Linked DNA regions of Homo sapiens. The protein of the gene in region 1 purifies or fractionates together with the protein of each later gene. This does not show direct contact. Each region holds a gene or a part of one and is shown on either strand. Other genes may lie near its edges. The genes, in order: SLC30A7, HACL2 and METTL9.

Evidence for each region.
Region 2: the proteins of SLC30A7 (region 1) and HACL2 purify together in Homo sapiens (co-immunoprecipitation; 2 studies listed by BioGRID and IntAct, with this or other methods). This does not show direct contact.
Region 3: the proteins of SLC30A7 (region 1) and METTL9 purify together in Homo sapiens (co-immunoprecipitation; 2 studies listed by BioGRID and IntAct, with this or other methods). This does not show direct contact.

Annotation. Positions count from the first base shown.
Region 1 is NC_000001.11:100,894,021-100,897,767, reverse strand, and holds the start of SLC30A7 (zinc transporter 7), read right to left. Parts: upstream 1,679-3,747; 5' UTR 1,506-1,678; coding exon 1,426-1,505; intron 1,199-1,425; coding exon 1,097-1,198; intron 1-1,096. UniProt on the Homo sapiens protein: Zinc ion transporter mediating zinc entry from the cytosol into the lumen of organelles along the secretory pathway.
Region 2 is NC_000019.10:15,123,718-15,127,464, reverse strand, and holds the start of HACL2 (2-hydroxyacyl-CoA lyase 2), read left to right. Parts: upstream 1-1,678; 5' UTR 1,679-1,809; exon of another isoform or gene 1,810-2,085; intron 2,086-2,272; exon of another isoform or gene 2,273-2,395; 5' UTR 2,396-2,405; coding exon 2,406-2,540; intron 2,541-2,959; exon of another isoform or gene 2,960-3,001; intron 3,002-3,239; exon of another isoform or gene 3,240-3,305; intron 3,306-3,747. UniProt on the Homo sapiens protein: Endoplasmic reticulum 2-OH acyl-CoA lyase involved in the cleavage (C1 removal) reaction in the fatty acid alpha-oxydation in a thiamine pyrophosphate (TPP)-dependent manner. Involved in the phytosphingosine degradation pathway.
Region 3 is NC_000016.10:21,651,442-21,655,188, reverse strand, and holds part of METTL9 (protein-L-histidine N-pros-methyltransferase isoform 1 precursor), read right to left. Parts: intron 2,658-3,747; coding exon of another isoform or gene 2,591-2,657; exon of another isoform or gene 2,581-2,590; intron 1-2,580. Other genes in the region: IGSF6 (immunoglobulin superfamily member 6 precursor), read left to right, coding at 2,591-2,657. UniProt on the Homo sapiens protein: Protein-histidine N-methyltransferase that specifically catalyzes 1-methylhistidine (pros-methylhistidine) methylation of target proteins.

The DNA.
Region 1 (3,747 bases):
CATAATCTGCTGGTTATTGAGTATTTTTTATAGAACTGAATTGACGGTTGAATTGAAAGAAGCCCAAGCATTATATAAAAGTATACATGTCACAAAACCTGGTGATATTACCTGTCAATGTTTGATCTCAACAGAAGATCAAGGACAGCGATTTTCTCTGAAAATGGGTCTTAAACAACAGAGACTAAGTCTATTTAATAAATAGAAAACAGGTTCTTAATCTAGAGTCCAAGATTTAGTACAGGGAACCCAACAACATCCTGAAGCTTTATGTACAATTCTGAGTATTGGCTTTCATCAGATTTTTGAAGGAGTATGGGATCTAAAGACAGAATTAGTACACCTAGGAGTGTGACAGTCTTGTTAGCAGAACAACTTCATAAGACCTTAAGTTACTCAACAGCAAATACCTGAATAATAGTAACTTCACTGCCACAGAGTTACACACTAGATTTTCCTCCTCCTAAGGATGTTTCAAAAAAAACAAAAACCCTCAAAGGTGCCACCAAAACCCAAGAAATGTTGTTTCTAGAAACTATATGGGATTTTTACATCGCAGTTAAGACTACAGGAAAATCATGAGACAGTTTCGGCATTAAAGAGAGAAGAGAATGACACATATTCCTCCCGATATCACTTTATAAAACCTCCCATTCCAAGCCCCAATAACAAACTAAGTAGAACATCTCAGATATACTCTCTCAGAATCTTAAGGGTGAAATCCAAATGCCACTCCCCCCCGAGAGAGGCAGCAAACAAGTTTCTCCCAATTCCAACAAAGTGGGTAAACCTAAGGCCTACAATTAGAAATGAAAGATTCTGCCCATCTGCTAAAATAAGGAGGGGCTTGTCAGTCTTGTCTGATGGAACTGGAGGGGAGCGTGACAAGAGAGGTTGCACAGGATAGGCCCAGATCTTACTCAAGAACTGTAGCCCTACCAGATTGGTGTGGGTATGAGAAAGCAACTCAGCAGCAGAGGTAGGTAACAAAGGTAGGACCTGAACCTCCTAGTGAGGAGCTACGTGGCATTAAGCAAACAGTGCTTCGTCTCCCTCACACCCAGCTTCCGCCCAAACCATTTTCCCCTTTGGTTACCAGTTGCTCCAGATGCCGTAGAGTAGTTCCACAAAAGCGAAAGAGAGGTTCAGGCACAGGAAGAAAAACAGGTTCCGGGAAGTCTTGTCGGACAGTATAGACCTGGGAATGATACACGTGGAAAAGAGCCGGGAGAGTTAAGGAGGTGCCGGGACCCCGAGGCTGGGTACCCTCTTCAAGACCCTCCCAGTTCACATGCTCCTTTCTTCACAGCTAGGGGTTGACGGGGAGTTTTTGACTCTCCCTCACTGGACCTCGGGCCATCCTGAGGTCTGGGCCTTCTCCCTTTCTGCCGGACACCCCCTCCCCGCAAACACAGCACCCCGCACCTAAACCAGCCCGAGATCTTGCCGAACAAATTGAACTTGGGTGGTTTGTATTCATCGTCTTTGATGGACAGGGGCAACATCTTCTCTGCCCGGCGAAGGGCCGGGTCTACTCCCCTCTAGAAGTGGCTCCGTGGGGTGATGGCAGTGACAGTAGTGACGCCTCAAACGGGAATCCCCAGCGCTTGTCCGGGGCCGCGCGCCGCTGCGAGACACAGACAGACACAGACACACACCCGGGAATTCGCTTACTTCCGGCCCGGGCCGCGCAACGCGTCCTGGGACAGGAAAGGAGGGAGGCCGGTCGCGGGCGGGGCCTGCGCGGCGGAGGGCGTGGCTTGCGGCGGGGGCGGGATGAGAAAGGTGCTGGAGCTGTTGGAGGGACGCCAGGAGGTGGCAACTACCAGGGGGTGTGAGGGGCTGACCTGGGATGGAATCCTGCCACCCGGACTCAGGAAGAAAATCCTGAGGTGGCGACCTGCAGACTGGGCTGGGAGATGGAGAGCCCGCTCACGCCCACCCGACCGCCTACCACCAGTGTTCCCGGATGCATGGGCTCCAGCGCCTGCCCTTTCGCCATTTCCTCCCAACTGGCATTAAATCCTGGTGTGGTAGATATCAGTGATTAAGAGTCTAGGCAGCCACGTGTTCTATTGCCGCCAGTCCGCAGGAAACGCAAGTGATCGTTTTGCTGCGTTAACTCTATGGGCGCCCAAATCTTAGGAATCCATTCCACGCCACCCCGAAAACAGCGCTTGACCCTTCTGGACTGCCACGCAGGAGGCGATCAATGTTTTTCTTTCTTTATTTTTTTAAGAGACAAGGTCTCGCCCTGTCACCTAGGCTGGAGCACAATGAGGCTCACTACAGCCTGGAACTCCCGGACGCAAGTGATCCTCCTCAGCCTCCGGAGTAGCTGAGACCTCAGGCGTGCGCCACCATGCCTGGCATCAATCAATGTCTTTCAAAATAAAGGCTGTTAAACGTAGTATAGGAAAGAAGCTTTTTAATGGTAGGTTCTACCAGACGTGTTTGTTTGATTTTTAGGTTTGGTTAATGCATTGTTTCCCGTACAATCTCAACCCGCGGAAACCCCGAAACTCTAGAATTCGTGCCGGTCTCTTTCGCTTCCAGGTCATCCCCGGGGCAACGGCCGCCGCTCTAATTCTTGTCAGAACCTCCAGGCCAGTTTCAGCAACGTGCAGGCAGAAGCTGGCCCCTCGGTGGGATGCGAGGGCGTGTGGAGCGCGGGGAGGAGAGCCCCACAGGCCTTTCCTGGGCACCCGCGGTGGATGGGAAGGCTCCTTCGGGCGCCTTTCAGGGAAGTTGTTTGGCTGAGGGAAGGTGGTCCGTCACGTGAATGTTTAAAAGTTGTTACCTTGGAGAAGAAATGGAGGAAAGGATTGGCTTTCGGAGGTGGGCTGGAAACTACAAAACCGAGCTTCCTGGGAATGCCTTTTAGGCCGACAGGAAGTGGAGCGTCACCGAAAGGGAGGGGCGGCCACTCGGGGACTGTCCCTTGCTCCAGGCGCTCACTTTGCGGGCGGCACTTTTTCCAGGTTGTTAATCCAGCTAATGGAGAAGGATAGATGCACGCTACTTGGTTTAGAAAAAAAAACAAAAATGAGCAAACGAGACGCCCCTTCCGTTTTATGATAACTAAGCTGCAGGGAAATAAATCGGCTGGCCCTACTGCAATCTACTGCACTCGAGGTAAGGAGACACAGCAAAATGCTCCAGTATTAGTATTTTTCTTTTTGTAGTGAGGATATATGCATGTTTTGCTCTCGTTCTGAGAACTTTGTGTGTGTGTATGGAGTATTCGGTGGTTTTATTTTTGAAAATATGTACTTATTCTACAATTTTGAAAAATGTTAATTAAAACTGCTGTGTAAAAACAGCTAGGTTTCAGAAGTAAGTTCTGGGAAGAGTATTTTGTATTTGCCTTTGTTAGCGTATATTTCATTCTTTTAATTTAAGTGTAGAAATATTTAAAATTAGTAGCATTTACTCTTTTTTTGGAAGGAAGTTTTTGTATTAGCAGTAGACCTTGAATTTTACTCTACTGCACTGCTGAGGAAAAATTAATTGGGTGCAAACTAGATAGTTTAAAGATAAATAATTCTATGGTAATTGGATTTTTCTCCAAAACGCCCTTATTCAATATGATTTAACTTGGGAGAAGGCGGGAGAAGTAATAGAAATAATTAAATTTCAGCAACTGATTTCCAGCATAATCCTAACTCATCAAGGTCAGCTGCATTTTGAACTTTTTTGTATTCTGCCTTTGAAAATAAGTCCTATATTTTATACTGTATTGCTACA
Region 2 (3,747 bases), on another chromosome or scaffold:
ATCCTTGTGGGGCCCATGTCCTCACTTCCTCCTGGTCTCTCTGCTCAACTGTCACCTCCTTAGAGAGTCCTTCTGCTTGTCCTAAGAGAGGCCCTTACTGTATCCCTCTAACTCAATAATTTGTTGCACTTCTCTTTAAATTTCGATCAATTTAGATACATGGTATTTGTTTCCTCCCCTGCCCCACACCCACCCCCTTTTTTTTAGAGACAGGGTCTTGCTCTGTTGCCCCAGCTGGAGTGCAGTGGCACGATCACAGCTCACTGTAGACACAACCTCTTGGGTTCAAGCAATCCTCCCTTCTCAACCTCCCAAGCAAAAGGGATAACAAGCACGTGCCACCATACTCAGCTAATTTTTTTTCTTTTAAAAAAAATTTTTTTTAGACAGAGTCTTGCTCTGTTTCCCAGGCTGGAGTGCAATGGCGTGATCTCAGCTCACCGCAACCTCCACCTCCCGGGTTCAAGCGATTCTCCTGGCTAAGTTTGTTTGTTTGTTTGTTTTTTGGAGAGACTGGGTCTCACTTTTTGGCCCCGGTTGGTCTCAAATTCCTGGCCTCAAGCGATCCTCCTGTCTTGGCCTCCCAAAGTGCTGGGATTACACACATGGACCACCATGCCAGGCTTGTTTCCCTTTTTAAAAAAATCACTTGTCCTCTGTGTATATTTGTTTCAGGGACTGTTGAATAATCCAGCTTTCGGCTGAGAAGCTTTTTGGACATTTGCCTAGTGACAATCTTTCTTTATCTGGGGAGAGATTGGTCAGATAATTAGTCTTGGAGCATGTTAAAGCTTTGTCTCCCAAGAAAGAATTTACATCTATTACAACATCTTTCTCTCTCTCTGGAAAATTGTATCCTTGTTATTAAGACTTTTTTTTTCTTTTTTAGCTTTACAGAAAAGCTGCAAAGATAGCAAGATAATTTTTGTCTACTCTTTATCCAGCTTCCCTGAATGCTAACATCTTATATAACCATAATACATTTACTGAAACAAAAAGATTAACACTGGTTCATTACTACTAACTCAACTCCAAACTTTATTTGGATTTCACCAACTTTATCCACAAATTTGTCCTTTTTTTGATTCCTGGATCCAGTCCAGGGTACTATATTGAATTTAGTTGTCACAGCTCCTTTCCCTCCTCTAGTCTGTGGCAGTGCCTCAGTCTTTGTTTTTCATGACCTTGACAGTTTTGTAGAGGTCTGGTTAGGCATTTTGTAGAATGTGACTCAGTGTGAATTTCCTTTGCTTACTACTATACCTATTATACAAAAAATATACACATATATATATATACATGCACAAATATTTATTTATAGTGTGGAAAATATACATAACATAAAATTTACCATTTTTTAAGTATTATTATTATTTTGTGAGACATGGTCTTGCTCTGGTACGGCCCCGCTGGTGTGGAAAGCGAGCTGTGTTCGGAGGGCCTGAACCTACGGGCTTCCACCGTGGGGCCAATGGAAAGCTGCGGAAGGTGGGCCCCCAAAGGTCTGGGCTCCTGAAGCCGCTGAGGGGCGTGGCCTCCTGGTTTTAAAACATAAAATGGGTGTGAGGTCTGCAGTGCGAGCCAATGAAAGGCAAGGGGAGGCGGGGTCTATGAGGGAGGCGGCCAGTAGAGGCAAGGCTCTTTCGGGTGGCCCCGGAGCGGGGCTCCGACTGTGCGCATGCGCATCGGGCCGGACTACGGGGCGCCGCTGAGCCAAGTGGGCCACCCGGGCACGGCCACGCTCCCGGGTCACGTGACACGGAGGGGGCCGAATTCTGCTGGAGGCAGCGCCATATCCTGGAGGTGAAGGTGAATAGCGTCGGGGGTCGAGCTGGTGTGGGAGAACCACATCCTGATGCGATGTGACCTCGACCCAGCCTGGCCCGGGGTCGGGGATCAGGCTCGGGCCCGTGCGCTCTTTAAGGGAGAGGCGTGGGTTGCGTGGAGGGTCGCGCCCGCTAACCCGGGGGCGTGACCTCGTGCCTCTTGGTGACGTAACATGGGGCGGGCTCACTACTGGGGCTGAGATTTGGGGTCCGGTTGTGGAAAGAGAGGCGGGGCTTCCGCCTGTCCATTGACAAGTAGGTAAGTGGAAGATAACTGTGTGGTGCTGTCGTCGCCACCTTGACTTGTGGTGGCTAGTTTGGGTGGGAGTGGTGGTGATGTAAAGGACTGGGGCTAGCCCCGCGAGGGGCGTGACCTTGTCACGGAGAGGCATGGCTTCACCCCGAGCCTAGGCGCACAAAGGGCGTGGTCTGGCAGGGTTGGGGGCGTGGCCGCACAGAAACTGGCGGCAAGGGTCGTGGCCCTGGATCCTGCTGCGAGAAGGGGCGCGATTTCTTCCGGAGAGGTTCCCTGTCGCGCCCAAGTCTGGGAAGTGCCCTTTCTCTCTTAGGTACCACCTCATGGAGACCCCCGCGGCCGCCGCCCCCGCTGGGAGCTTATTCCCCTCCTTCCTGCTCCTGGCCTGCGGGACGCTGGTGGCCGCCTTGCTGGGCGCCGCTCACCGCCTGGGGCTCTTCTATCAGCTGCTGCACAAGGTGCGGGGCACAGAATGGGAGGTGGGCTGGGGGCAGTCAAAGAGGGAGGGGCCTCGTGGTGCTGCTTCCAGCTCACTCATTGTGCAGGGTGGGAAAGCGAGCCCCGACTAGTCCAGAGGGACTGGTAAGAGGTTCTGTCCAGGGCCCTGTCTCCATTGCCACGCTGTGTATGGAGGCCTGGACTTTGCCACTGGTAAGAGAGAACACGGAAGCTGCCGCTGCCGGGGCACTCGCACCCCACCTACCTCCTTCCCCAGTGACTCTTTTCACAGAACAGATGGACAGCACTCTGTGCTCCCTAACCTGGATGGGATAAATGGGGCAGAGGGCAGGCTCCAGCGAGGGGGTGGCAGTGACAGTTTCATAACAGTTGCCCTCTGCTGAGCTCAGTACTGTAGACTTTCTTACCTACCCCTTACCTTTTCCTTGAAAGTAGGTGCTGTTCTTTCTGTCTTCATTTTCTGCAAGAGGAAGCTGAGGCTCAGAGAGATTGTGTGGTGGTTTGCCCTAGGTGACATGTTTGGAGAGAGCTGACCCCACAGGTGTCCCCCTAAACTCCTTGCACCTCTGTTTGAAATTTACCCCTTCTCCAGACCCCTTCCTCAACCCTTTCTCTCCTAGCAGGGACCAAGCTTGACCTCTCCCTCCCCAAACCCTTCTCTACTGCTTCCTCTGCTAGCCAGGAGTGATGCCACTGACCTTCAGGACTTAGGAGATTTAAAGCAAGCCTTGGATGTGTAGGGCTGTGAGGCAGCTGGAGTTGGGAGGCCTCGGCACAGTCTGTGCCAGCAGCTCACTCCCGTGCCAGGCACATGGTGGCTGGCAGCCTGTCAACTAAGCCCTGGGCCTGTTTAGCGTCCATCAGGAGGGCATCAGGGAGGCTGGGATCAGGAGCCCAGCTGCCAGGCTCTGCAAGGATACTGGAGGGCAGGGAGGAGTCACAGCAGATGGCTCCCTGCCATCTGCTCTGCGTGCGTTGTGCCCCTGGCCAAACCCCCTGGGTTATATAACCCTCTCCTCTCTCCCTGATTGCCCTGCCATCCTGGAGACAGGCAGTGTAACAGTGGGGCACTTAAGAGCGTGGGTTCTATTGAACTTTCAGTCTTACTTGGGCAAGCCTTGATGTCCTCAGCTGTAAGAGGGATGTAATGACAAGAGGATCTGATAAGATGTTATGCCTTGGTTTGAGCCTGGCATGTAGTATAAT
Region 3 (3,747 bases), on another chromosome or scaffold:
AACAAGTGATTTAAAGAGGGAAGCAGGGAGGAGCCATATCTACCAAGGACTTGGTACGTTCCAAGCCTGAGGGCTTCATGAGTTACCTCTTTTGTACTTCCCAGGTACTCTTTGAGACAGGTGGGCAGATAAAGAACAGACTCAGAAGGGGTGAAGAACTTGCCCACGCTTGCAAGGTTAATGAGTGTCAGTATGGAAATGTAAGCCCAGGTTTGTCTGGATCCAAGGCCCCACACTGTTATCTTCTCTGACAGTTTTGGGTAGTATCTGCCAATAGACTGACTGCAGGGTGTAATGGTTAATGGGTTTGGAAAACTGGTCATTAAATGCTGGAATACTGAAACAGAGAGCAACATGTAATATCTGAAGGACAGTTTTGGACAAATGCAAGAAAATACCACTGGCATAGTAAACTTATGCAACTTACTACCTAGAGAGATTTATTAGGCTGAAAATAAAAACAGGCTCATGAAGGATTTTAATTTAGAAAAGCAGATCATTGGGGAGTTTTTCTAGGGAAGTTGACTCATTCTTTGCCTTTTCAGAACAATTTCATAAACATTAAGCTCCAGGACCAGAGAGAGATGGAACAGTAGGATGGATACACCGTCCAGCATTTCTTGGACTAGAGATGAAGCCTCTATCAGTCATTTCCAAACCTATGAGCAGGAGATGCCTGGGGGACAAGGGGACTAGGGAAGGTCCTCAAATTCACATACAAACCTGGCACTGACTACAGACACACACACAGAGATGACAGTATATTTAACTTTGGGGGTACTTTTTAGGTGCTATGGTGATACAAAAACTACATACATCTGTTGAAGTGTTAAAACCAGATTGAGGCCGGGCGTGGTGGCACATGCCTGTAATCCCAGCACTTTGGGAGGCCGAGGTGGGCGGATCACGAGGTCAGGAGATCAAGACCATCCTGACTAACACAGTGAAACCCCGTCTCTACTAAAAAAAATACAAAAAAATTAGCTGGGCATGGCAACATGCACCTGTAGTCCCAGCTACTTGGGAGGCTGAGGCAGGAGAATGGTGTGAACCCGGGAGGCGGAGCTTGCAGCGAGCCAAGATCGTGCCACTGCACTCCAGCCTGGGCGACAGAGCGAGACTCTGTCTCAAAAAAAAAAAAAAAAAAAAAAACAAAACAGACTGAGAATAACTTTCTGTTAATGAGAAAATATATCATGAGCAGATGCCAAGGGCACAGACATCATATCATGGTGGGGAGATTTTTCATAATTTTCAGTGGTGCAGATGACGCTCTTCCCATGTCTGGGGAATTGCCTGCCCAGAGTCTGGGAGAGACACAAGGCCTGGGAGCCGCTTTCCTGGCCTGCCGTGCAGCTGAGGCACTGGCACGCAGCCTAAGCCAGGCACACTTGCCCATGCCCTGGAATGGAGAGCCAGTGACCCAGAGTAGTGGGGATGTGAGCTTCTCCTTCTCTGGGGGTGGAGCAATGGCAGTGAGACCAAGGGGCTGGGGCAGTGGTTGAGCGATGCTGACAACAGGGCTGATGGCACCTAGTGTTTGGCAGTGGCAGTAGCATCCTCTTCAGACCTGTTTATGGTGTGATTTGAGGCATTCTTCCTGGCTGTGGACCCCACACAAGATTCACTAGCCCTCCCAGTGACTCTAGGATCTACCTTCAAATGTTTGCATAAATTTCCTTTTAAGTCAGCCTGAGTCTGTTTCTGCTGCTTTACAAAGAAGACCCTTACTGAATCACCACTAAGTGCTGGGGGAGAGGACACAGAGGACAGAGGGCCCACATATTTGTTTCTCAACACATTAAAAGGGGGTCTTTGGGCCAGGCATGGTGGCTCACACCTGTAATCCTAACACTTTGGGAGGCCAAGGCAGGGGGATCGCTTGAGGGCAGGACTAGCCTAGACAACACAGAATCTACAAAAAAAAAAAAAAATTAGCCAGGGGTGGTGGTGCATGCCTGTAGTCCCAGCTACTCAGGAAGCTGAGGCTGCAATGACCTGCAATCTTGCCACTGCATTCCAGCCTGGGTGATAGAGACCCTGTCAAAAAAGGGGGGAAGGCAGGTGTCTTTGGATTCAAAACTGGAGTACAAAAAGTTAATAACAGACAATTTATTTATTCGCTGCATTAGAATGTGTTGTTTACTAACTTTTCTCATCTCTACACAAAGCCACTTCTCCTTCTGCTGTTCTTTGTTCCCAGCAGTTACTGGCCCAGAGTGGCACCCAGAGCAGGTACCCTAGACAGTGACTGAACTGTTCTGAAAAATCCAAGTACGAATTATTTGTCAAACAATACTCCTTCCTGGAAATATGTGCTAGGTGTAAATCAAAATCTCACCCAGAAACATCTAACACCTATGACAACTGTAAAATCCATGGAAAAAAAAAAGATATGCACATTTCTAAATGTGCTCCAGGCCAAAATCTCAATGTTAAATGGTGAAGCCATCCTTGCACAATTTCAAAAAGTTCCTGATTATGGTTCCTTCATAAGAGGTTCCTCTCTTCAGCTCTTCTTCCCTTCTGAAAAAAGAAAGCCAACTTTCCTTTCAAATACACACCCCAACCCGCCCCGGCATACACAGAAATGGGGACTGCGAGCAGAAGCAACATCGCTCGCCATCTGCAAACCAATCTCATTCTATTTTGTGTCGGTAAGGTTCTTTTTCTTCTCCTCCTTCATTTTATTTAAATCAACTGCTATTTTTCACCTAATGCATTTATATTTTAAGCTCCTTCAGATTAATTTTTAAATGTATAACATTATGAAAACTGCCTAAGAGGATAAGTTTCCTTTTTCCCCTGAGAAATAGACAATAAAAAAATAGCTGAGAAAAAGTTTCATATTAACCTTGAAAAGTCTCTTTGCTATTATGCTAATTGGAGACAATCTGACCAAAGGGTTGAAAATATTCTTAAAATCGTAGGTATAAGTTATCAATAATTTAATTATCATACAAACTTGATCTGCACATAGAAAGCAATAAATGATTATTTGCTGAATATTTTCAAAGAACAATTTCTATAAAAGTACTTTTCATTTAAGAAAAAAAAAACTGCCATGACTCCAATAGCCATCCCATAGTATATCTATTTTTAAAATTCTGTCTACTTCTGTTTTTTTATCTATGAAAGAGAAAGGATTTCCAATACATCTAGTAATCTCAGATTTGCCCACACAATTTGGATTATAGGGCAGGGAAGGGGGGAAAGTTCTTAATTTTTTCTCATCTGTGAAGAAATATATCAAAATGTTAATGGGAGTTATTTCAGGCAAAAGGACTATGGGTGACTTTTTGCTTCTACTTTTAATAACCTGTTTTTTGCTAATAAGTATATATTACTTTCATAGACTATTTTAATTAGCATTATTTTAAAGAAGAATTCCTGTCTTTTAGAGATATATTCTGAAAGATGCAGATAAAATGGCTGGGATTTGCTCTAAAATAATATGGGAGTGAGGGAGTAGGTGGGAGGAGAAAAGAAACAAGATTGGGTCGAAGCCATGTGATGGCAGGGGGTTGACTGTACTACTTCGCTACTTTGATATGTTAGAAATTTGAAATCTAATATAATAAAGCTTTGGGCTGGGCGTGGTGGTTCATGCCTGTAATCCCAGCACTTTGGGGGCCAAGGTGAGAGGATCACTTGAGCTCAGGAGTTCAAGACCAGCATGAACAACATAATGAGACCCCCATTTCTACACAAGAAAAAAAAATAGCTGGGCGTGATGGCACCTGCACT